Regions from separate parts of the Homo sapiens genome. Here regions 2, 3, 4, 5 and 6 are each linked to region 1. Evidence: fine-mapped expression QTL. A gene starts in region 1. Each other region holds a variant in brackets. All regions are shown on one strand. Distances are from middle to middle. Region 1 holds the start of NRG1 (neuregulin 1). Region 2 overlaps NRG1 (neuregulin 1). Region 3 has its middle 8.4 kb from the start of NRG1-IT3. Region 4 has its middle 39 kb from the start of NRG1-IT3. Region 5 has its middle 38 kb from the start of NRG1. Region 6 has its middle 44 kb from the start of NRG1-IT3.

Region 1 (4,091 bases):
CAAAATATAGGGTAAAAATAAGGGAAAATTCAATACACCCTCATGAGGGGCAATGATCAGTAATTGAAGTGAATATGATCAGCAGGATCTTATTAAAGAAGCAAGCACAAGAATGGCCAGTGGTGAAACAATTACTCTCTGTTCAATTTCTGTTTTGCTCAAAACTCTGCTGAAGGTCTCTGCCAATAACCCAGGTTCTGAAATGCTATCAGTGATACCAGTAAGAAGACCAAGCAAATGTGGTTTGTTTTCTTCCAGCAAGGGACAAATACTTCTACAGTATTACTGTAGCCACAGTATTATCAAGTACTAGTGAATTAATTCTGCAGAAGTGCTTCATGAAATGTGTGTTGGGGGTACGCTCGAAGCGACTTAAGGCATCTGGATCAATTAATAATTGGGAATTGCAGAGGCAAAAAATAAATTCTCCCCCATCTCCTTCCTCCCCTCTTTTATCAGCTACCTACCAATCACTCATAAACAAGTATTTATTCGACATGCCTCTTTTGTCCAAGGTAATGTCCAAAGCATCAGCGCTTCCTAGGGACATCTAAGGTAAAGCTTTTGTTCATGCTCGTGTTCTGATGATGAAATACAAGATTTGTTTCTAGAAAGCTTCAATTGCCATTTTATTATATAGATAACCAGCAAACAATTGGGTTCAAAAATTCAGATAAACGGTTGTTTTCTTACATCTCTTGGGAAAGTAAATTATCCATATTTATCACAGAGGTCTTGAAAAATAGAACTGTTAAGCCAAAAGTTTGTAGAACTTGTTTGGGGCAGAGCTGATTCCTGACACTGGACTAGATTTCATCTGCTTCGCTGACCTTTAGGAATCCCTGCCGCTGCTCTTGAGTCTCCGTAGCACAGGACTGAATCAAGATGAACCGGCGCGCACTCTACATCGCTTGCCCTGTGCCCCAAAACGCCGAAGCTAACTTCCCACGCGGCCTCTTGCTCGACCACCCACTTCTGCGCTGCCAGGCACACCGAGGGGACCGGCTCTCCCTCCAGGCGGCCCATTCCAGCGTTTCCCGCTAGAGGGCACACGGCCCCCGTGCAAAGCGCTTATGGCGCGGGGCACGCGCGCACGCAGCCTCGACTCCTATAGCCCAGGTCCCACTCCCGGGCTGGGCTCAGCCGCTAAGGCGCTGGGGAGGGGCCGTGCCAGGGAGCGAAGCGCTCCCGGGACTCTGGGAGGGTGCGGCCGGGACTGCTGTCCCTTGCCCTGAGCTCTGGGCGTAGGCGCCCGGTAGGACTCGGCGCCCAGGTGAGCGGCGGCCCCCAGGAGGGGAAGCACCGCGCGACTCAACGGGCGCTCAGAGCGCAGGGCGAAGAGGACGGGCGAGGGAGAGGGGGAGGGAGAGGCCACGGCATCCGAGGAGGAGGAGGAGTAGGAGGAGCAGGAGGAGGATCGTGGGGCCCGGGCCGCGCTGCGCACCCACCTGGGCTCTGGCTGCCCGCCGCGGACTCCGGCTTCTTGCCGGAGCCTCGCTCCTTCTTCTTGCCCTTCCCTTTGCCTCTGCCTTCTTTGCGCTCGGACATCTCGCCGGAGACGGAGCGCTCTACGCGGACGGCTCTCGGCGCAGGCGAGTTTGGTCCAAGGGCTCGGATCGGGTTTGGGAAAAGTTTGTCCCTCGAGGGGGAGAGCGAGCGGCCGCGCTGAGGCGCTCGCGCTGCGCGGGGGCGTCTCCCGTTGCCTGCAGGGAGCGCGGCGCGGACGCGGCGGGCGGTCCGGCCACCTGGAACGGGCGCTCGCCCTGGCTCTCGGGGCTGCTCCTGTCGCCCCGGGAAGTCGTCGATGGGTCCCACCGCTGGCGGCTCGCGTCCTGGCCTCTGCCCGGCGCCCTCGCAACCCGATCGGGGAGAGGTTATCACCGTCCTGCTCACGCTCCCATCGTCCGGCAGCCGCCGCCGCTCAGCTCCTGGCCTCCGCGCGAGCCCGGAGTTCCAACAAGTTTCGGGGAACTCCTCGCCGGCTCTTTTTCAATTGCCCCGCAGCCACCCACCTCCCGCCCGCAGGTTGGAGGCAGGCGCCTCCTTCGCACCCTCCCCTGGCCTCGCCCCCTCCCTCTTCCCCACCACACCCCCACCCCGAGGCGCGGACACGCCACCGGGAGGAGCCTGGGCTCGGCGCTCCCGGGCGCAGCCCCTTTTCCTCCCGCGCTGGCCGGGCGGGGGGTGGCGGCGCGGCTGCCGGGAACCCCCGACAGGGGTCGCTGGACGCTGCGCGGAGACCGAGGCCAGCGCCCCGGAGACCCGGGAACCCAGGCGGAGACCCGAGGCTCTCGCTGCCCGCTCCCCTCCGCAGCCAGGCAGCGCCTGGGAGGGCTGCTCCGTCCCATTCCACGCGGAAAAGGACGGCGCAGAGAAAAGTTTGCGACTCCCACACCTGTGCCCCAAGCAGAGTCTCCGTGGTCAGGAACCCTGGGAGGGGTGCGGGGGGAACGTTGGTGGCTTTCCCAGAAGAGTTCGGGGTTCATTCCTTAACTCACTTAAGTACAAAAGCCCTGTCGCACGCAGGCGAAAATAAACTCTAGGTGGAAGGGAGTTTAAGATAAGGCTTCCTTCCAGGTGCACAGGAAGGGCTAAGCGAACCTTAAAGATGCTAGGTTGCGCTCTCCTGCTGGGTCTGCGCCGTGTGCGTGTGTGTGTGTGTGTGTGTGTGTGTGTGTGTGTGTTTAGTAAGTGCCTGTTAGAAATCTTCAGCTTTTCCTTAAAAAATAACCTGGCCTCTTCTAAGGGGGTGCCCTTAAACTACGTCTCTTACTACAACTTAATTTTCAGAGGAACTGATAAAAAACATAGTTCGGAGCACGACTCAGAATAATTAAAATTACTGCAGCCGCTGAAAGTCACTCAGTTCTGCCGAGTGGAAAAGCAGGCAGGGAGGGGTAGAATAAAGACACAGAACTGGAGATCCTTAATTCGTGAATGTGGGGTTTCTCAGATTCAAACTTTACTCAGAACTGCGCGTGAAACCTACTCCTTCCCTTGTCCTCCCTCTGGTGGAGAATTCTAAAGAGCAAGGAAATAAGAAGGCATTGACCCCTCCCCTGCAAAGGACAAAAGTTAAAGACCAGGGTAACGGGCACCACGGAAGGATCCAGAATTGTCTACATGTAGAGAAAACATTCTCAGAGTTATACCACAGCTGTGGTTAACTTAGACTCTTAATTTACAGTGAAATACTCTTGTGTTGTGGTCGGGAAGTGGTGAGTTGGAACAATCCATATTCAAAATCTATTGCTTCACTTTAAAAGTGACTTGCTCTTGGTTTTCCATTTTCTGGGGTCAATGCTAACTGAACCATTACCTACACACTACCTTCTCACGGTATTTTCTGATGGCCGCAATTTAAATAAAAGTGCAGTCTGGAGTGTCTCCTTGATATGTAGATGGGAAGGGAGGGAGGGAAATATGTTCACTTTAAAACTGTCCTAAAATCACACTAATTTTATTCTAGTTTAATTTGCACTGTCATAAGAACGAAACTCTGTTGAATGGGTTTAACTGTGGAAAGATATCCTAGCAGTCTTGCCATCATTATTTATAGTTTAAAAGTTTGATGTCCAAGTAGCTTCTGATAGCCTTCCTACAAACACCAAATATAAATTTCACTGGGCTATAAAGACAGCAAAAGCAGAGAAAAGATGATGAATATATCTCAGTAGCACTATTAATATTCCACAGAGACGTATGCAAGATGGAGTCTGAACACTGGCTGAAATAACTCTGTTTTCCCAGGAGGGGGCCACTGCTCAGTAAGCAGGAAATAGCAAAATTCAGAGAAGTCCTTTCAAAACAGATATTTTGTCCCAAGGATGTGAGACAGCATAAGGGCTTAGTATACACTACCACATATTCTCTAACATGGCATTATGTTAGAATTGAAGGACTGAAAGCAAAGATGTATTCTGGGATTCTTTTTTAAAAAATAAGATTTTCCCCAATTAAAAAAAAGAAGCTCAAAATCCATTTCTATGGAAATGTTGTAATTCTGCTACTTTTGTTTAGGGTCTGGATGTTTTGCTTCAACAAAACAGCTTACTGGTCATTTTTAGAGTAATTTTTCAGTGAGATAGGGG
Region 2 (4,091 bases), 63 kb before region 1:
AACAAGTGATTAGCAATAAACCTTTAGTAAGACCAAATGTGTCTTTCTGCTGCAAATTAAGTGTGGATGATCCTCTCTAATCACAGATTAGGAGGGCAAACTATGCAAGGAGTAAGCTTGGTTTCAATACATCAAAGTTGCCTACGTTGGCTCTTACATCCACTAAAAATGGGGCTCACTGAAAGGAATTAGTATGTGAGGGTACATCATTTTCTCAGGATTTTCTCAAGCATCAGGCGAGAAAGAGGATATTCCGAATTGGTAATATGAAGATATCTGTTTCTGAAGCAGCACCAACAAGCTTTCTTGATTTGGGCTGCAGAAAATGAAATTGTTCTTCTTTGAGAAAATGTAATCTCAAAGAAACTATATTAGAGATACAAAGTGTGTGTCCTTCTCTAGAAATATCTAGAAGGGCCATGTTTCCAAACAAAGGACCTACACTAAGAGAGATGCTTCCTTCTCTTGTCCTTCAGGATTCATCAATGACATTACAACCAGATGAAGTCGTAAACCCAAGGTGCTCAACTAGAGCTGGGCAGAAGTCCCAATCCCAATTCGGATATCAAGACTCTTTTCAAATTTATTTTTGACAAACAAAGTAGCTGTCCACTGTGACCTTCCAAGAAGAAAAAAAAATCAGAACTTTTCTATCTCCAGCAAAAAATACCTCAGATTAGAGGGAAGGTTAACCATAATGTTTCATTTTTTAATTGAATGTTACCTAAAAATACCAGAACAGGAGGTTACTACAAAGAGGCATCTACACAGAGACAACTTAAAATAACTCCTCTTCCTAAAATCAGGTATTTATCTTGGAGACCTTAAAATATCTTTAATGATTATGGTTTCAAATACAAACTTTCTGAATTAACCCTGGAGGAAATACAAGCTCAAAAGTTAACCTATACTTCTACACCAAAGGAGTCTTCATTGTAAAAAGAATCTTGCTAGTAAGAAAGTTAATCTTTTTAATTAAAACCACTCAGCAAGCATTTTTATGTGTGCTATGGGTAGAATTTATAGATTTGGAAAACAGCCTTTTGTTAAAAGTAAATTGAAAGTAATTTTATATTACACTTACAGACTTTTAAAAAAGCATTAAATCCTGCAATCTTTATGATGTTTATTTAAGCAACATATTTTCCCATAGTAATTTGGCATATTACATTTGTTAATTTATAAAGGACAGCCCCTTCATTAGTGCAAATTAATGAGGTTTTAGAATTATCAGAAACTGAACACAGCTGAGCAACTTATGCTGAACAGGCAAGTAAACATAATGAACATTAGTATATTTGTAATGTTTGAATTCTTTCTTAATAAACGGGGTCTGGTCTCAGGAAAAAGTTGCATGGTCTCAAAGATATCTTCTAGAAAGGAATTTTTCTAATTATTATGAATGTAACATGTTTGCAATTTCATCATGATCATAATACACTAAATATAATTATGTAGCAAAATACACATATGCACATTGTATACAGTATATACAAACATACATAAAATGTGTCTGTGTGTATTCCAACATTCACTTATGTGACTTTTTTACCAAACTTATATGTCACTGCTGTACATACAAAAATTTTGATCAAGTGATTTCTTTAAAAGATTTAAAAGTGGACATATTTATTTATTAGCAGTTATAAAGATAACTTAAGGAACATCTTTAAGTACCTGAATTCTTCCTGTTCATAATGAATGCTTACTCTAAGGCAACTGAGAAATTTTGAAATTAATAAACAGTGTAGACAGGATGGATACCATACATTGAAAAGACAAATCTACCCTATTGCTTTCATATTGTTCTCATGTATTTGCCTTCCTGGGCATCCTACATAATACAATATACATGTAGACTGTTATACAAATTATAAAACA[T/C]ATTTTACATGCTTTTCAACATAACTGCAGGTTGTTTCCCAATATTGTGAAATTTCTAACATCATTATCAATTTGGGAAAGGGGGTAAGGCGAAGCCTATTACCAGTATGAGTCTATTTTTAAAAGCTGCAATTGATAATTTAATTAAATTTTATAAAAATAATATTTTTCTGCTCATCTCAAATGAAACAGCTATTTTTTTGCTACAAGCCCAATTGCTCCTGTGGGAACTTGAATCTCATTCAAATAATTTTTCTTCTGATTAAAAAAGAAAACTTAGGAGAAGATATGATTGATTAGTTGTATATTTTCCTATATTAATCTTTTAAAAGAAAGCATTACTTAATTAATTTGGAAACCAGTAAAGTCTATTATTCTCTTCCCTACTCTAAAGCCCAGGAGTTTTCACAAAGCTTGTTAGCTAAGAATTAATTGCTAAGTCAAGGTTTCCTATATACAGACTGAGCCAAATAAACCACAAATACAAATGAACATATAGTGTGTAGGGTGTGTAAACATGATGTATGTGGCCTTTTCTGCTGTCATATACGAATTCATGAAAGGAATTCACTCATAAGTTATCACATAATTACTGCCTATGAGATCCTTTGTTATATGAAAACCCAACTGGTCTTTGTAAGCTTTACATTGTCCCAGAAGTAATTAGCAGATTGCATAGGTTGATATATGTCTACTACAGGATAAATTACTTTCTCTAATTCTGAATAAAGTAGGGGTTGAAAGGCATTGGAAAAGACAGAAAACACCTACATTTCTAAAATGTAGGTTGGCAAAATGCTTGACTGTATTATTTTCTAAGTGCTTGAAAACAGTATAAGTATGGCCACTGTTACACCCAAGCATATACTGTTTCAAGGGGAATTTCCTAATTTTTTAATCATTTCGTTTATATTTAGTCACTAATCCAGATAGATCTAAACAATGAGTTTCATTGCAGAAGACTTTTATGATCTAATTTTATTTTAATAATTACTATAGCTTCCTTAATGAGATTAAACATCATGCCAAACAGCAAGGTCATCTGGGGAGAAAGTAAACAGCTTCCAACGAATGTCTCCCCCAACCTCCCCATCTCTCTTAGAATCTTGTATCAAAATATGTTCTAAACATGTTGGAACATACAAAAAGTAACTGTGTGAGAATTTAAGTGAATCACAAGGAATCCTCTGCATAGGAAAAAATTAGGATAATTAGATTGCAGCAACCTACAAGGATCATTCATCAAGGAAACCTGTATAGAAATTCTCGAAACTATAGCCATGAGCTTCTTGGAAATACATAGAAAAGGTGAAAAAATGAAATTAATAAAGTGACTGATAGTTCATAGAAAATATAAATTAAAATCTCAAGGGGAGTTCTACATAATGTAATAGTTTGACAGCATGTTCTTATTTTAACAACTTTTTTTTTTTCTAGAATCCACAATGAAACAATAAATTCTTGACCGGGTGTGATGGTTCACACCTGTAATCCAAGCACTTTGGGAGCCCAAAGTGGGCAGATCATTTGAGGTCAGGAGTTAGAGACCAGCATGGCCAACATGGCGAAACCTTGTCTACAAGAAATACAAAAATTAGCTGGGGTGTGGTGGGGGGTGTCTAGAATCCCAGCTACTCAAGAGGCTGAGGCAGGAGAATTGCTTGAATCCAGGAGGAGAATTGCTTGAATCCAGTGCAGTGGCCGAGATCCTGCCACTGCACTCCAGCCTAGGTGACACAGCGAAACACCATTTAAAAAAAAAAAAAAAAAAGGAAAGAGAGAGAGAGACAGACAGAGGGAGGGAGGGAGGGAAAGGAAGGAAGGAAGGAAGGAAGGAAGGAAGGAAGGAAGGAAGGAAGGAAGGAAGGAAGGAAGGAAGGAGGGAGGGAAGGAAATTCTTGAGAATTCTACTCTCTATCAGCCCAAGTCAACGGTAAATATCTATTTAGGAAGACATGGTTCAGTGGTGCGGCAATTTATAAACCCAGTAGAAAGTGCCCTTTTTCTCTCAGAAAAAGTGTTTCTGTGCAACGTCTGCCCTGATTCCTAGGGAGACAGGAATGAGACAATACAAAGGCAGTGCATCTAAGCCCCGGAGAGCTCAGAACCCAACTGAGGCTTCTTTGACAACCAAGCATTGAACAGAATATAGCAAATTCTTAGATAGCAGTGGAAGAGGATAAGGGATCAAGATGATTACATATTTTCCT
Region 3 (4,091 bases), 99 kb after region 1:
TTGAAAGAGAGAGTTAGAAAAGAGATTTCTGCTGCAAAGTCAAACAGAAATTCAAATGTCCACTCCCATATTATTTCCCACAATGTTCCACTTTTGGGAAGTTTGAGAAAAATTATAATTATTATCAATATATAAAATAGTACTAAGAGATACCATAGTTTGAAAGGCCAAAGATCTGTATATCTGCAATTCCTTCCTGTTTGTTTTGTTTTGTTTTGTTTTTCAGTCCTCCATTTGTGTTAAAAGGTAGTTGAGGGCAACTCCCTTAGAGAAGACTTTCCAAATTTTCCTTCAAATGGTTCTGGGAAGCTTCCTCTCTCCTTCTCTTGCCAACTGACTTGTCTTTAACTCAGAACACACAGGCCTGAGATAAGTGAACAAAAAAGCACTGCAACCATCTCACCCTTGCCACCATCTCTTTCCTGGCTCATAGCTTAAAACAAAGGTTTAAGAGACTCTTCTATGCTCTTCATTGAATTCTGTCTTCATTTTTTTATTATTAAATAATTTCTAGACCAGGTGCAGTGGTTCACGTCTATAATCTCAGCGCTTTGGAAGGTGGAAGCAGGAGGATCATTTGAGCCTAGGAGTTCAAGACCAGCCTGGGCAACATGGTGAAACTCCATCTCTACAAAAAATACAAAAAATAGCCAGGTGTGGTGACATGTACCTGTAGTCCAAGCTATTTGGGAGGCTGAGGTGGGAGGATTGTTTGAGCCTGGGGGTTAAGGCTGCAGTAAGCTGTAATTGCGTGACTGTACTCCAGCCTGGGTGGCAGAGCGAGACCCTGTCTCAATTTTTTTTTTCTTTTTTAGAAATGAGGTCTCACTGTGTCACCCAGGCAGGAGTGCAGTGGCTATTCACAGACACAACCATTGTGAACTACAGCCTGGAACTCTTGGCCTCAAGTAATGGTCTCACCTCAGCCTCCCAAGTAGCTGGAACTATAGGTGCTGCTACTTCACCTGGATTTTATTTAATTCTTTATCAACCTGCACTCACAGGGTTGTGGTGTAAATTAAAGGAGATGAAATATGTAAAATAATCTAGCATAATGTCCACTTAAAGTGCTCAATAAAATTATTCTATTCCTGCTTAGTCCCCTGAAGGCCTGAAGATTCTATCTTCGCTCTATCATATTTACCTGCCCACCGGGTTGCCAGGTTTCCTATAGATATTATCATATCTAAAATTCAATCACAGTTCAGTTACTTTGGCTCCGATGATCTCTTCTCTTGCCAGCCTGTTCCCATCCCGGAACTTTATGTGCCAGCCATTTTGAAATGCCTGCCAATCCCCAAATATCCTGTGCTCTGCCATAAATCTTCACGATTGCATAGGTTGTATCTGATGCACTGGCTCCCTCTTCCCTTTCATGAATGGCATGTTTCTTCTCATACTTTAAGATTTAGCTGAATATATGCATGGTGTGTAGGAAGTTAATAGATGAATTTTTAAAAAATAAACACCAAAAAAGATTTAGCTGAAACATCCTTACTTTTTAATACCAGTATATCCAAATATGTATTGCCACAGTATATTTCCACTCTGCTTTCATGTTTCTTCTGTTAGACTGTGAATTTTAGCACATAGCTTATTCATCTTTGATGGTGCCTAGTGCATTGCCTGGCATATAACAGGTACTCAATGAATGAATGAATGAATGAATTTTCCTATGCTTAGGTCCAACAAAGTACATTGTAAATGATTATATTGTTTTTAAATCTCAAAGAAGTCTTACACCTGAAATAAATGGAGCAACAGCAATTTTGGAGTTAAGTTTTTTTGTTGTTGTTTTTGTTCTTTTTTTTTTT[TA/A]GGCTGGAGAGACAACCACAGTCCCACTAGGCTTGATGTACTTCAGTTCTATCAACAACTGATTTCACTTAGGATAATTTTATTTATTTGTTTATTTATATATTATTATTATTATTTGAGACAAGGTCTTGCTCTGTTGCCCAGGCTAGAGTATGGTGGTGCACTCACATCTCATTGCAGCCCTAAACTCCTAGGCTCAAGTGATCCTCCCATCTCAGCCTCCTGAGTATCTGGGACTGCAGGCATGCACCACCATGCCCAGCTAATTGTTGTACTTTTTTTGTAGAGATGGGGTTTCACCATGTTGCCCAGACTGGTCTCAAACTCCTGGGCTCAAGCAATTTTCCCACCTCAGCCTCTCAAATCGTTGGGATTAGAGGCGTGAGCCATCATGCCCGGCCGATGGCTTTGGACAATTTTAAACACCGCTTTCCTCCATACTCTTTTTTCAACTTGTTATTCAGAGACTCACCTCCCAATCCTCCTCACATCCTTCCTAAACACACACACACACATACACTTCAGAGGATTTTCTCAAGATAATTCAACATGATGATGACCTTTAAGAAGAAGCCAGAATAGAGTAAACAATGAGCACTTTGAAGAAACATTTTGTTGTCAGCTTATATTTGGGCTGAGGGCAGTGGCAGGGGGGACCCCTGGGGGCGTCAGGAGGTGCCGAGGAACCTCTACCATAAAAGCTACAATCCACCTCCCTCCCATTGTTTACACAGAAAAAAAAATAGCTAATTGACGTAGGATGTGGGTGAGCTTGGTTTTCATCTCAATCCTGTTTTGCCTCATCTTGCGGTTACCTTAGGAGCACTTCAGGGCCAACCATTTCCAGTGCTTTAGGGGCTAAAAAGAAATAAAAGAAAACAACTCAAAGACTTTGGATCCTCCTCCCAGACTCGGGCCAGCTAAAAGAGTAATTCCAATCCCCAGGAGCTATGATTAAGTAAAAATTATGAAAACGTCAAATTCAAGATCTTGAGAGATTACACTAATTTAAGCCCTCGATATTTTATTCCTATTGATAAAATAACCTGGTTAGAAATCCTCCTGGCACCAGAATCTCTAGCAAATAGCATTAAACATTAGTCATTGGCAAAAGAAGTCTTGAAGAGGGAATTTTCAAGTCCTTTTGGTGGTTTATGCTGTTTTCTGTCCATGTGGGTATATCTACATCAGTTGGTAATAAAAATAAACACATTTACTTAGGTTAGATTTAGGTGATATTAAAAGTAACAATGATTTAACAATTGCTTCTATGGTGTTGCATATAATATTTTGTTCATGTTAAAATTTAGTGGAGACTCAAACTGAAGTGAACATATATAACTAAGCTAGCTTAGGAAAGCCAGAGTAATATACTCAGATGAAATACCTAAACTTTAAAATAATGTTCTACTAAAGTTAATGATTACCTATAAAAATTTCAACCCCTAAGATTAACACTTTGGAAAAAATTATCATAAGGAGTTATAGTAAGAAAGTCATCCTTCCTTTTACCATGCAATCCGTTATAGAAAAACTGTTGCTTTACGTATTTTTTTTTTTTTTTTGACACAGGGTTTGGCTTTGTTGCCCAGGCCAGGGTGCAGCCTTGACCTCCCTGGTTCAAGTGATCCTCCCACCTCAGCCCTCCATGTAGCTGGAACTACAGGGAGCCACCGCCATGCTCGACTAATTTTAAAAAATATTTTTTGTAGAGATGGGGTCTCACTATGTTGCCTATGCTGGTCTCAAACTCTTGGGCTGAAGCGATCCTCTCTCCTCAACTTCCCAAAGTGCTGGGATTAGAGGTGGGAGCCACTGCGCCCACGTTTTATTCAGTTTCCTTTAAGCAACAATTAAACATTGCTGACTAAGAGAATATAATAGAATAAAACATGTCTCTTGCTATTCTAGTATGCTGATGTCTCAAGATTATCAATTTCCTCTGTATGCAAATACATATGATGTAAATGTTTCCCACAGTGATTAGCTTCATTGTTATTTTGCAGAAGTGTTTCAGATGGACTTGCTATACCACCATTTCCATTGGAAAACCAAGAGAAGGATGAGACAATCTTATTAAAAGTATTTTAGGGCCAAGCAAGGTGGCTTATGCCTATAATCCCAGCACTTTGGGAGGCCGATGCAGGTGGATCACGAGGTCAGGAGTTCAAGACCAGCCTGGCCAACATAGTGAAACCCCGTCTCTACTAAAAATACAAAAAAAAAATTAGCCGGGTGTGGTGGTGGGCGCCTGTAATCCCAGCTACGTGGGAGGC
Region 4 (4,091 bases), 150 kb after region 1:
TTTGTACCATGGGAAGACAAAACAAATTTCAAAAATATCAAGATCTCTCCTCATTATGATCCAAAAATGTACCTTCCTTCTTTCCTCAATGAACTCTCACTCTCTAGGATGTCGATCTGATTAAAATAATTGCCACTTAAGTGTAAATTTTCCATAAAAACAGAGGTGATGTGGGTGGGTACTATCTATATCTCAAAAAATGTGAAATTTTTGAAACATGAGCGTATAAAGGAGACTTTCGAGCAGGGAGGGATTCAGATACTCTATTTAGAGAAGGCTTTCCTTGTCAGGTTCAAACAGACTTGGATTTGAATAAGCTCTTTTATCTTATAAAAGTGAAAATCTATAAGACTGTGCAACTAGAAGCAAATTTCTTAAGCTTTTTGAGAGTCAATTTTTGTATCTTGTAAAATGGGGATAAGAACTACTTCATGGGATTGTAGTGAGGAAGAAATAACAGGAAGGCTATCAAGTGCCTTGCACACAGTAGGTGTTCAGTGCTTGCTCATTTCTTTTTTCTTTCTTTTTTTTTTTTTTTTTTTTGAGACAGAGTGTCGCTCTGTCGCCCAGGCTGGAGTGCAGTGGCATGATCTCGGCTCACTGCAACTTTTCTGCCTTCCAGGTTCAAGCAATTCTCTGCCTCAGCTTCCCAAGTAGCTGCGATTACAGGCACCTGCCACTGTGCCTGGCTAATTTTTATATTTTTAGTAGAGACGGCGTTTCACCATCTTGCCCAGGCTGGTCTTGAACTCCTGACCTTGGGTGATCCACCCGTCTTGGCCTCCCAAAGTGCTGGGATTACAGGTGTGAGCCACTGTGCCCGGCCAGTGCTTGCTCATTTCTTTCTTGGCTTCTGTGTTTTTATTTTCCTCAACAAGGCTGAGGAAAAATAATGTAAGTGATGTAAGGATACGAAAATACATAGAGTAATCCCCCCTTATCCTCAGGGGATACATTCCATGACACCCAGTGGATGCCTGAAACCGTGGGTAGTACGAAACCCTTTATATACTATGCACAAATATCTTTTTTCTTCTTCACAGTTCAACAGATAGAAGATCTAACAACTTCAGCATTCAATGTTTTTCTTTCCTTATTAAGAGTTTTCACTCAAAGGAAGCACTTTAGGGCTTCTCTTTGGCAGCTCCAAATCTCCAGCATTGCTACTCCTGTGCTTTGAGGCCATTAGGAAGTAAAATAAGGGTGACTTCAACACAAGCACCCCCATACTGCCATGGTCGATCTAATAACTGAGAGGGCTACTGAGTGACTAACAGGTCGGAGGCATAGACAGTGAGGAACTGCTGGACAAAGGGGAAGAATTCATGTCCCGCATGGGACAGAGTGGGACAGGGCAAGATTTCATCACGCTACTCAGAATGGCATGCAATTTAACACTTATGAATTGTTTTTTTTTTAAATTTTCCATTTAATATTTTTAGACTGTGGATAAATGAAACCAAAGAAATCAAAGCCACGAATCAGAGGGGGCCCACTGCACCTATTTCCTTTCATTTTATTGAATGGCTTTGTAAGAAGTTCAAGGCTGATGAGAGTGACAGGGTGTGTTAGATAGACAATGAGCTACAAAGGGTAAGGAAAGTGTTTTCTCTTTTTAAAAAAACTTTTAGGCCAGGCGTGGTGGCTCACAACTGTAATCCCAGCACTTCGGGAGGCCGAGGTGGGCAGATCACCTCAGGTTAGGAGTTTGAGACAAGCCTGGCCAACATGGCAAAACCCCATCTGTACTAAAAAATACAAAAATTAGCCTGGCGTTGTGGTAGGCGCCTGTTGTCCCAGGTACTCGGGTGACTGAGGCAGGGAGAATTGCTTGAACCAAGGAGGCAGAGGTTGCAGTGAACCAAGATCGCGCCACTGCACTCCAGCCTGGGCAACAAGAACAAGACTCTGTCTCAAAACAAACAAACAAACAAAAAAACCAAACAAACAACTTTTATTTTAGGTTCAGGGGTACATATGCAGGTTTGTTATACAGGTACCCTTGTGTCACAGGCATTTGAC[G/A]TACAGATTATTTTGTAACCCAGGTATGAAGCATAGTACCTGATAGGTAGTTTTTCTGATCTTCTCCCTCCTCCCACCTTCTGCCCTCAGCAGACCCCAGTGTCTGTTGTTCTTCTCTTTGTGTCCATGTGTTTTCTTTGTTTAGCTCCCACTGATAAGTGAGGGCATGTGGTATTTTGTTTTCTGTTCCTGTGTTCATTTGCTAAGGATAATGGCCTCCAGCTCCATCCATGTTTCTTCAAAGGACATGAACTCCCTTTTAGCTAAATTCAGCCTATTTCATCGAATGACTATAGAATGCAAAGCCTTTTTTTAAGTGTTAGGGACATAGCAGTGGACAGAACATGAAAATCCTTGCCCTCATGAACCTCTAGTGAAGGGAGACAGACAATGAATAAAATAGATAAATGATAAGTGCCAGAGAGAAAACTAAGGAACAGGGAATGGGGTACTGCCAGAAAGCAGGGCACGTTTGCAGTTTTATTTTTTATTTTTAAATTTTTATGTATTTATTTTTTAACTTGTATTTTAGGTTCAGGGGTACATGTGCTGGTTTGTTATATTGGTAAGCTGCGTGTCATGGGGCTTTGGTGTACAGGTTATTTCATCGCCCAGGTAATAAGCATAGTACCCTATAGGTATATTTTCTGATCTTCTCCCTCCTCCCACCCTCCACCCTCAAGTAGGCCCCAGTGTCTGTCGTTCCCCTCCATGTATCCATAGGTTCTCATTGTTTAGTTCCCACTTATGAGTGAGAATATGCAGTATTTACTCTTCTGTTCCTGTGTTAGTCCGCTTAGGATAATGGCCTCCAGCTCCATCCATGTTCCTGCAAAGGACATGATCCCATTCATTTTTATGGCTGCATAGTATTCCATGGTGTATATGTACCACATTTTCTTTATTCAATCTACTGTTGATGGGCATTTAGGCTGATTCCATATCTTTGCTATTGCGGACAGTGCTATCTATGATGAACATATGTGTACAGGTGTCTTCATGATAGAACAATTTGTATTCCTTTGTGTACATACCCAGTAATGGGATTGCTGGATTGGATGATAATTCTATTTTAAGTTCTTTGAGGAATCGCCATGCTGCTTTCCAGAACGGCTGAACTGATTTACAGTCCCACCAGCAGTGTATGAGCGTTCCCTTTACTCTGTCAGCATCTGTTATTTTTTGACCTTTTAATAATAACCATTCTGACTGGCGTGAAATGGTATCTCATTGTGGATTTGATTTGCATCTCTCTGATGATCAGTGATATTGGGTAATTTTCCATATGCTTATTGGCCATGTGTATATCTTCTCTTGAAAAGTGTCTGTTCGTGTCGTTTGCCCAGTTTGTAATGGGTTTGTTTGTTGCTTGTGAATCTGTTTAAGTGCCTTATAGATTCTGGATATTAGGTCTTTTAAGTTTTAAATTAAGTGATCAGCCTCCCAAGTAGCTCAGACTATAGGGTTGCACCACCACACCTGGCTAATTTTTGTATTTTTGGTAGAGACAGAGTTTGCCACGTTGGCCAGGCTGGTCTCAAACTCCTGACCTCAAGTGATTCACCCACATTGGCCTCCCAAAGTGCTGGGATTACAGGAGATGTTTAGTTTAATAAACTATGCTTTCTACATAGATATTTGAAGCGATACTACAGATTTTAGGCTCGGGTTAATGTAGGATTCTGACTATCCAGCATTTCCTTATTAACGCAATGGCAGCCTAAGTATTTATGTTCCTAAGTAAGAAAATATCCAAGAAACTGGTATTGGTACCTCAAAACAATTTATGGACTGCACTGCTATAAAGACCCTCATGGGTGTGAAGAGGTGCAGAGAGGTGATATGGGGAGAAGGCAAGGAAGCTTCCTGCAAAACAAAGTCTGCAAGGTACTTAAACTTACATGTACTTGAAGAATGAACAGCTTTTCTCTTTCCAAACCTATTACTTTCAAATGCAGAAGACATGGAAAATTTAACACTTCTGGAAATCATAAAAAAGAACACTGGCTTATACCCTATAATACCTGATATTTGATAATAAAAAGAATTACAGGAGGGAAAAGTCTCTA
Region 5 (4,091 bases), 38 kb after region 1:
ATCAATAAAAGGCACTAGGAAAAGATACTTACCATATAAGGTTGTTATGTAGGGTAAATGAGATAATGGCACTTAGAAGAATGTCTGGTATATAATAATTGCTCAATCAATGCTAGCTATGATTATCAGATCCTCTTGGAATGCTAACAAAGGTATAAGTAGTAATAACAGTGAACAGCTGTTGAAGGAAATTCATGTGATCATAAAGCTATGATTTCAGTTTGCATTTTACCATTCTGTTATCCCAATGTCAAATTTAGTTTAGTAAGTTATGATTAATATTGCCAAATGGCTAAATTATATAGCTGATGTCAAAGCCTTTTGAAAAGTAGGCATAATTGTTGAAGTAATTCAAATAATTTTTATTCTACATGTATATTGTCCAAATATGTACGTCTGTATTAGTATCTAAGCAGAAATGTCTTTCTGTGAAAATTCCAATTCCTCTAGAAGCTTCCCCCCTCCATCCCCCTCATCCCCCATAAAGGACCATCTTCTGTCCTACCTCTTTCTTCTCCTTATTCCTGGATTATGAAGAAGGCCAGCTCAGGCCAATCCATTCCTGTGGCATGGAATGACCCATGATCACATTATAGCCTCCTACCTGGCATGTGCTGGGCAGGAAAGAGACCAGCACAATGTCCAGCACAAGAGGGAAGCTTCTGCCTTAATTCTACCCCACTGGTCCTGGCTCTGCCCATTTCATTAGCTTCCCAGTGGCCGTGCATCACAGCTCCCTGGGGCTGTATTCTCCCCATTTAGGGTCACAGCTGCATGCTCCTAACCTCATGTAACTCATCTACTTCTCACATGCTCAGAAATTTCCTTTAAAGCACATCTTTGCCTTCACAGAGTATATTTATATTAATAAAGAGTTCTTATTGTTTTTATCCATGAGCACGTATGGCTGACTCAAATACAAGCCATTGCAACTTGGTGGACAAACCCTAGTTGGTACACACTTTGAAAAAGTGCTCAAAGCCAGCCAATCTAGGAGGCATGAGATAATCTAACTACTGTCGCTTCTTTAACTTTCAGTATAAAATTCCTCTGTGTATTTGGGGCTAAGCTTAAGTGGAACACTGATCAGAAGTGTCTGTGATGGTCTGAAAAATAATGAGAAAAAGTACAATGCTTTCATGAAACTAAAGACAGACGGGGTTTTCTGTGGGGATTCAGGGCTATAAGCAGCTCTTACCTATTTATTTTATTTATATATATATATATATATATATATATATATACACATATATATCGACAGACAGACACACACACACACATATATATGTATTTGTAAATGTGTGTGTGTGTGTTGAAAAGAAACAGTGATGGCCAAGCAGGGTCATGTAAGTTTGTTTACTGATGTATTTGTTGATAAATATCTGTTGTATGTTTTTCATAATTGTTTGAACATGTATGTCTGGTTGCTCCATGAATTGGAACAGTTCCCATTTCATCTGGTCCAGGAGGTAAAATAGATCAGTCCACTATTAAAATACTTTAAAAACATACCCTCATTTTCTCAAAGCCCCTAATCTATAAGCATGGTGAGAAAATTAGCCTTTGTCTCTTTGGGATCCTCTCCCCAGAGATTTTTTTCAGGGTATGGCATGGAAAAAAATAGGGAGACCCTGCTTCAGAAAAAAAAAAAAAAAAGGAAAGAAAGAAAGAAAGGAAGATTCCAACAGAATACAGAAAAAAGGAAAAAGAACAATGTTTATAAGAACCTGGAGAGAGAAGTTGAGAAGACGAAGACCTGTTTTTTACTTTTTTGGGTAGCACTGCTAAGGGTATGGCCCAGGGTATGGCCTGGACTAGAGAGGGTGGAGCCATCTTCCGGATTACTGAAAAGAGTCCTGTCTCAGCCTGCATGGTCCTTAGGGTGCGGTGGCCCTGAGGCTTCTGGGTGCCTGGCTGAGCCCTTTGTTTTAGTTATCAGTGACATCATCAGCCCAACATGAGCACAGCCATGTCTTCTCCAGAATCACTCATCCTGCACTTCCCCATTTCCTCACCTTCTACTCCTCCAAAGAACAGGCAGGAATAGAGGTGATGTTCCATTTTATTAGAGTCCTGCGACTTCTGGGTACTTTTTTATTTCTTTAGCAGTGCTGCCCAAAAAAGTAGAAAACAGGTCTTCATCTTCTCACCTTCTCTCTGCAGGTACTTGTAAATATTGTTCTTTTTCCTTTTTTCTTTATTCTACTGGAATTTTCTTCCTTTCCTCCTTTTTTTATTTTTTATTTTTTTGAAACAGGGTCTCCCTATGTTACCTATGCTAGAGTGCAGCAGCACAAACATGGCTCACTGCAGCCTTGACCTCCTGTGCTCAAGCAGTCCTTCTGCCTCAGCCTCTCAAAGTGCTGGGATTATAGACACGAGGCAATATGCCTAGCCCTCCTTTCTTTCCTTTCCTGTCTTTTCTTTCTTTTTTCTTTCTGTCTCTCTTTCTTTCCCTTTCTCCCTCCCTCCCTTGCTTTTATGATTATTATTATTATTATTATTATT[ATTATTT/T]TTGTCTAGGATAGCTATGTTCTTTCTCCTGTTTCTGACCAAGACATTTTTTCCACTAGTTAAGAATCTTCTCTCTTTTGGAGCTAAATTTTAGGGGGAAAACAAGCAAAAAAAATTCCAAAAACTAGATTTTCACAGGCAAGGCCACATTTCTTCCCTGTAGCAATAATTGTAGGGTCTGAATGAAAGGAGAGTAAAAGGATAAAGACAGATGAAATGTTAACTTCTAAACATATTAGCTCCCACCACCACCACCTCCAGTACACACACATCAACAGGCTAGGACATCCAAAATATTAATGAATTACTGAGAAGGTGGAAAGTGGAGAGGTTCAAGCCAAACATATAGCTGCCTTTTCAGGACCCTCAGACTTAAATCCAAAATGAAACTAACAAAGTCATCCTCCTCAATGAAGCCCTCCTCTGCTGTCTCTTTTCTCTATTTCTATTAATGGAATAAACAAACAACCAATTTACCAAGCTAGAAATGTGAGTGTCACCTTTGACTCTTCCCCCTCTCCTTTAATCACCTGCATCCCTCAAATTCCAATTCCTCTTCAATCTACTTTGGCAATGGCATCCAAAACCTTCCCTCCTCAGGCTGCCGACACTAGCTTAATCCAGGCTCTAATCATCTTTGTTTTAAAGTCTTAAGTATTTTTTTTAAGATTACAAAGTTATATGTGAATAATAGAAACAATTCAGGCCGGATGTGGTGACTCACACCTGTAATCCCAGCACTTTGGGAGGCCCAGGTGGGAGGTTCATTTGAGCCTGGGAATTTGAGACCAGCCTGGGCAACATGGTGAAACCTCATCTCTATGAAAAAATACAAAAATTAGCTGGGTGTGATGGTGGTCACCTGTAGTCCCAGCTACCTAGGAGGCTGATCACCTGAGCACAGGAGCTTGAGGCTGCAGTGAGTCATGATTGCACCACTGTACTCCAGCCTGGGTGACAGAGCCAGACCCTGTCGCAAAAAATAAAATAAAATAAAATATAAAATAAAATAAAATAAAATAGGAAAAGAAAAAAGAAACAATTCAAAGTATACACAAGTATAGGCCAGGCACGGTGGCTCATACCTGTGATCCCAGCACTTTGGGAGGCTGAAGTGGGTAAATCGTTTGAGGTCAGGAGTTCGAGACTAGCGTTGCCAACATGGTGAGACTCCATCTCTACTAAGAATATAAAAATTATTTGGGCATGGTGGTGTGTGCCTATAGTCCAGCTACTCAGGAAGCTGAGGCCTGAGAATTGCTTGAACCTGGGAGGTAGAGGTTGCAGTGACCCAAGATTGCCCCACTGCACTCCAGCCTGAGTGACGGAGTGAGACTCTGTCTCACACAAACAAACAAACAAAAAACCAAAACAACAACAAAACCACAAAGTATATACAAGTATAAAAAATAAATAGTGTAGGTTTCCTAATAATTCTACATATCAGAATGACAACTGTTAAAACTTTGTTTTTGTTTTGCAACTTAAAAAATAGCCCTTAGGCCAGGCGCGGTGGCTCACGCCTGTAATCCCAGAACTTTGGGAGGCTGAGGCAGGTGGATCACGAGGTCAGGCAT
Region 6 (4,091 bases), 64 kb after region 1:
TCAAAGGCTTCTCCAGATTAATATTCCTGTGTCCTAACAACCTGGGTGGCGTAAGTAGAGTTTCATTGCATTTATGGATTCTTAAAGGGCAGCTTTCCCCTTTGTGCTATGAGGGACACTTATAGTACAGGAGGTGCCTGGAATTTGTTAGCTATCTGAATAAGAACTCCCACTACTGTTTTGTGTTAGTTATAACAAACTATAAAAGGATTATTCAGTAAGAAATTCTGAGGCTGGGTGCGGTGGCTCACATCTGTAATCCCAGCACTTTGGGAGGCCGAAGTGGGCAGATCCCTTGAGGTCAGGAGTTTGAGACCAGCCTGGCCAACACGGCAAAACCCTGTCTACTAAAAATATAAAAAATTAGCCAGGCATGGGGAGGGGGGGAGCGCCTGTAATCCCAGCTACTTGGGAGGCTGAGGCAGGAGAATTGCTTAAACCCAGGAGGCGGAGGTTGCAGTGAGCTGAGATCACTCCATTGCACTCCAACCTGGGCAATAAGAGTGAAACTCTGTCTCAAAGAAAAAAGAAAAAAAAGAAAGAAATAAGTGCAAATTGGGGAAATATAATTTGCAAGGCTCATTTATTCAAGGATAACTTTAGGGGTTTGAGTGGGAAAGATATAATTGGTATGATCACCTAAATAAGACGTATTATGAGATTTGAAAGAAAAGATTACAACTTTAAGGGGAAACTTAATTAGATAGAAATGCCACAGAAGCAGCAACTTCTCTCAGGAGTTTAAAATGCAATATTCTGACAATTGTTTACTTGTTTGGTTAATACGTGTGTTCTCAATGAAACAGGGAAACAAACTAGTAGTTAATTTCATTTTCCTTTCTTCTTCCTTTCTCCCACCTACTTCCTTCCTTCCTTCTTGAGTGTCTGCTTTGCAGCTACCATTAGGGATATGAAATAAAAAAGACAGGGACTCTGCCTTTGAGGAGTTCGTGGGGTGGAGAAAGAGGACAGACAGATATGTAAACAATTAAGGAAAGATAGAAGCTTATTATTAATATGAGAGAGGAAGCAGAAAAGTGAAGAAAGGAGGGAGAGCAGACCGGGTGTGTGGCTCACGCCAGTAATCCCAGCACTTTGGGAGGCCGAGGAGGGAGGATCACCAGAGGTCAGGAGTTGGAGACCAGCCTGACCAACATGGAGAAACCCCATCTCTACTGAAAAGACAAAATTAGCTGGGCGTGGTACTATAATCCCAGCTCCTTGGGAGGCTGAGGCAGGAGTATCGCTTGAACCCAAGAGGCAGAGGTTGCGGTGAGCCAAGATTGCGCCATTACACTCCAGCCTAGGCAACAAGAGTGAAAATCTGTCTCAAAAAAAAAGAAAAAGAAAGGAGGGAGAGCAGACACTATACTGAGCACTGCAGAGGAAGTAACAGGTAGAGAAGCCAAGAAGGATTTCAATTTCAATTTCAATTTCAAGAAGTTTAGTATTTCTGAAACCCTTTGGAATCCTTCTTTGCACAAGAATTCTCTGAATGGGAGGTTGCGTGGTGTATGTTCACTACGCCTGATCTTCTTTGTGATTAATATTTAAGTGGAAGGATAGATGATGGTATGAAGATATTTCCAGGCTCTTTTTACAGGCTAAAATTTTAATTCATATAAATTTTAAGCATCATTATTCTCTA[A/G]ACATGAAATGTTTCCATTAAAACATAAAACCCAGTGGTAATACTTCATGATTTTAATAGGTCACAAATAAATGTGTTAACTTCTGTAAAAAGAAACAGAAATAGGCAAACCAAAAAGCCCCTTTTCTAAGCTGAGAACGTATTTATTGGCCTAGCAGAAAAAAGACAAAAGTGAGTTCCTATCTAAGTCTACAGTAGGAGAAAGAAAAAAAAAAGGCATAGGTATATTGTACAAATGACTCCAGATAGATTCTATGCCTGCTGGACAGCATCGTTTGTATTTCACAAAATCACCTTGACTTCAAAATGCTTCAAACTGAACTCATTGTGTTTTCATCAAAGCCCATGTCAACTTCTCTATTTTCTGAATGTTATCACATTTCATCAGTGATCTGCTCTTGAAATCTCTGTCAAAGTTGACTCCCTTCTCTCATGTTTTGTGCACATCAGCCAGTCCTTAAATCACACTAATTCAAAATGTATCTTGTCATTGTCTATTTCTTTTTCTGCCCACTGACAGCATAAAGGTGGATGTTCAGTAGTTTGTACCTGGGCATTTTAGTAGCCTACCAGTTTCTTCATTCCTTTCCCTCTTATTTCCACTGTATTCTCCTTAGTACACTGGTTTTGTTCTATTTCCTGCCTAAACCAAACCTCAAATGACTTTCCCTGAAACTCTAGGTTTTGCCCAAACTTTCTTTTTTTTTTTTTTGATACGGAGTCTTGCTCTGTCGCCCAGGCTGGAGTGCAGTGGTGCGATCTTGGCTCACTGCAAGCTCCGCCTCCTGGGTTCATGCCATTCTTCTGCCTCAGCCTCCCTAGTAGCTGGGACTGCAGGCGCCTGACACCACGCCTGGCTAATTTTTGTATTTTTAGTAGAGACGGGTTTTCACCATGTTAGCCAGGATGGTCTCGATCTCCTGAGCTTGTGATCTGCCCGCCTCGGCCCCCCAAAGTGCTGGGATTACAGGCGTGAGCCACCGCACCTGGCCACTTCTGCCCAAACTTTCTAACGTCGGTGGACATTGGAGGCAGTGATGGAAACTGTGAAAGGGGTAAAGTTGTTTCTGGGGGTCCCTGCCCACCCACATCCCCTCTTCTCAGTAGTGTAAGGAAATTGACATGACAGCTCACCTATGCTCAAGTGGGGAACACAAAGAAGACTTACCTAGCCTCCGACATTGCCTTCAAGATCATTATAAGGTTGGAGATGGAGAGAAGGAAATTCTAGCAAAGGCTTATCAAGTGACAAATGGACTTATCACATGTAAGCAACTGTGGCATATGTTGAGCACAAGAAGTTGAAGTAGTCACTTTGCTCTAAGTCCAGACTAATGAACAAGAGGCAACTAAATGCATAACTTTCATGGGGGGAGAAGGAAAAGCCGGAGATGGAGTAGAGGTCAAATGATTTGACATCTTCCTAACACTACAATTCTTTTGGTTTATTCTGTGAATGCCTCTTCAGAGACAAGGCAAGTGGGTAATTACAGGGAATGGAAATGTTTGTCACAACTCAGAGAATAGACTAGAACCCCCAAGGAAGAGAAGTCCTCTCTAGCCAGGCTGTGCTTTGGATTTAGCCAGAGAAGTGGCAGAGAAGTGGAGATGAGGATTAAGATTATGAACTATAAGAACTAGAAAATCTGGAAGAAATGTTCTCTTTCCCATCTCCCCAATCAACACACACACACATATTCATGTCAGTTATGGGTTCCCTTGGATCATGCCAATGTAGTGTCATCCTGACATGAATTGAGTGTGTAACATACACAAGACAGGAACTGTGGGAAGACACCTGGCAACCTAAGCCTCATGCTGTCTAACGCCCTGTCCCCAGAGATCAAAGCCTTGTCTCAAATGAGTCATTTGGCACTTTGGTATAAATAAGTTTTAAAGCTGGGGTTGTTCCCTAACATCAACCTGGTGTAAGAACTGCTGGTTGACGGCTGGGAGTGCCTCTGGACCTTCAGTTCAGCCCATCTGTCTGCATGTTATTCCACTACCCTGTTCCCACCCTCTTCCCCCACAGCTCCAGTCCTTCTGATTCAACACTCGAAAGAGTCTGGGGACCTTGAGTCCATCTGCCTGTTCCCTCTCTCTGCTCCATGCATTTCCTCTTGTCAGCACCCGTCCCCTGTTCCTCCTGTATGGAAGAAGGACTGGGCTTATCCCACAGAGCACCCCATAGTCCTTGGAATGGCTCCTTCCTAATCACAGCAGAGCAATGAAGGGAGTGAGGTTGGACAGCTTCAGGGAAGCAGGGATACTGAGATCCCAGCCTGGATCTGCCCGGAAAAGCATGGCAGATTTGATCTCAGGCATTACCAGTGATGTGCAAAGAATGGATGGAGAAACTGATATGGATGTTATTTACAGATACCAGAGAACACACACACACACACACACACACACAAAAGTAGAAAGAAAGAAAACAACCCCC

Evidence for each region. PIP is the estimated chance that this variant, and not a neighbour inherited with it, causes the effect.
Region 2: its variant is the best candidate, but not a certain one, in a credible set for the expression of NRG1 in whole blood (INTERVAL, PIP 0.68).
Region 3: its variant is the best candidate, but not a certain one, in a credible set for the expression of NRG1 in whole blood (INTERVAL, PIP 0.58).
Region 4: its variant is the best candidate, but not a certain one, in a credible set for the expression of NRG1 in monocytes (Fairfax 2014, PIP 0.62).
Region 5: its variant is the best candidate, but not a certain one, in a credible set for the expression of NRG1 in whole blood (INTERVAL, PIP 0.51).
Region 6: its variant is the best candidate, but not a certain one, in a credible set for the expression of NRG1 in whole blood (INTERVAL, PIP 0.66).

The regions. Positions count from the first base shown.
Region 1 is chr8:32,546,184-32,550,274 of GRCh38, reverse strand. It overlaps NRG1 (neuregulin 1), which reads right to left and starts at 1,964. Exons shown (of 12, transcript NM_013964.5): 1 at 1,449-1,964. The coding sequence starts at 1,548.
Region 2 is chr8:32,609,224-32,613,314 of GRCh38, reverse strand. The region is part of intron 3 of NRG1 (neuregulin 1); the gene reads right to left. Among named protein-coding and RNA genes, the nearest start is that of NRG1, 63 kb to the right of the region's middle. The variant T/C (reference allele first, on the strand shown) is at 1,882.
Region 3 is chr8:32,447,138-32,451,228 of GRCh38, reverse strand. It overlaps a transcript of NRG1 not described here. Among named protein-coding and RNA genes, the nearest start is that of NRG1-IT3, 8.4 kb to the right of the region's middle. The variant TA/A (reference allele first, on the strand shown) is at 1,815.
Region 4 is chr8:32,399,752-32,403,842 of GRCh38, reverse strand. It overlaps a transcript of NRG1 not described here. Among named protein-coding and RNA genes, the nearest start is that of NRG1-IT3, 39 kb to the left of the region's middle. The variant G/A (reference allele first, on the strand shown) is at 2,023.
Region 5 is chr8:32,508,521-32,512,611 of GRCh38, reverse strand. It overlaps a transcript of NRG1 not described here. Among named protein-coding and RNA genes, the nearest start is that of NRG1, 38 kb to the left of the region's middle. The variant ATTATTT/T (reference allele first, on the strand shown) is at 2,509.
Region 6 is chr8:32,482,372-32,486,462 of GRCh38, reverse strand. It overlaps a transcript of NRG1 not described here. Among named protein-coding and RNA genes, the nearest start is that of NRG1-IT3, 44 kb to the right of the region's middle. The variant A/G (reference allele first, on the strand shown) is at 1,649.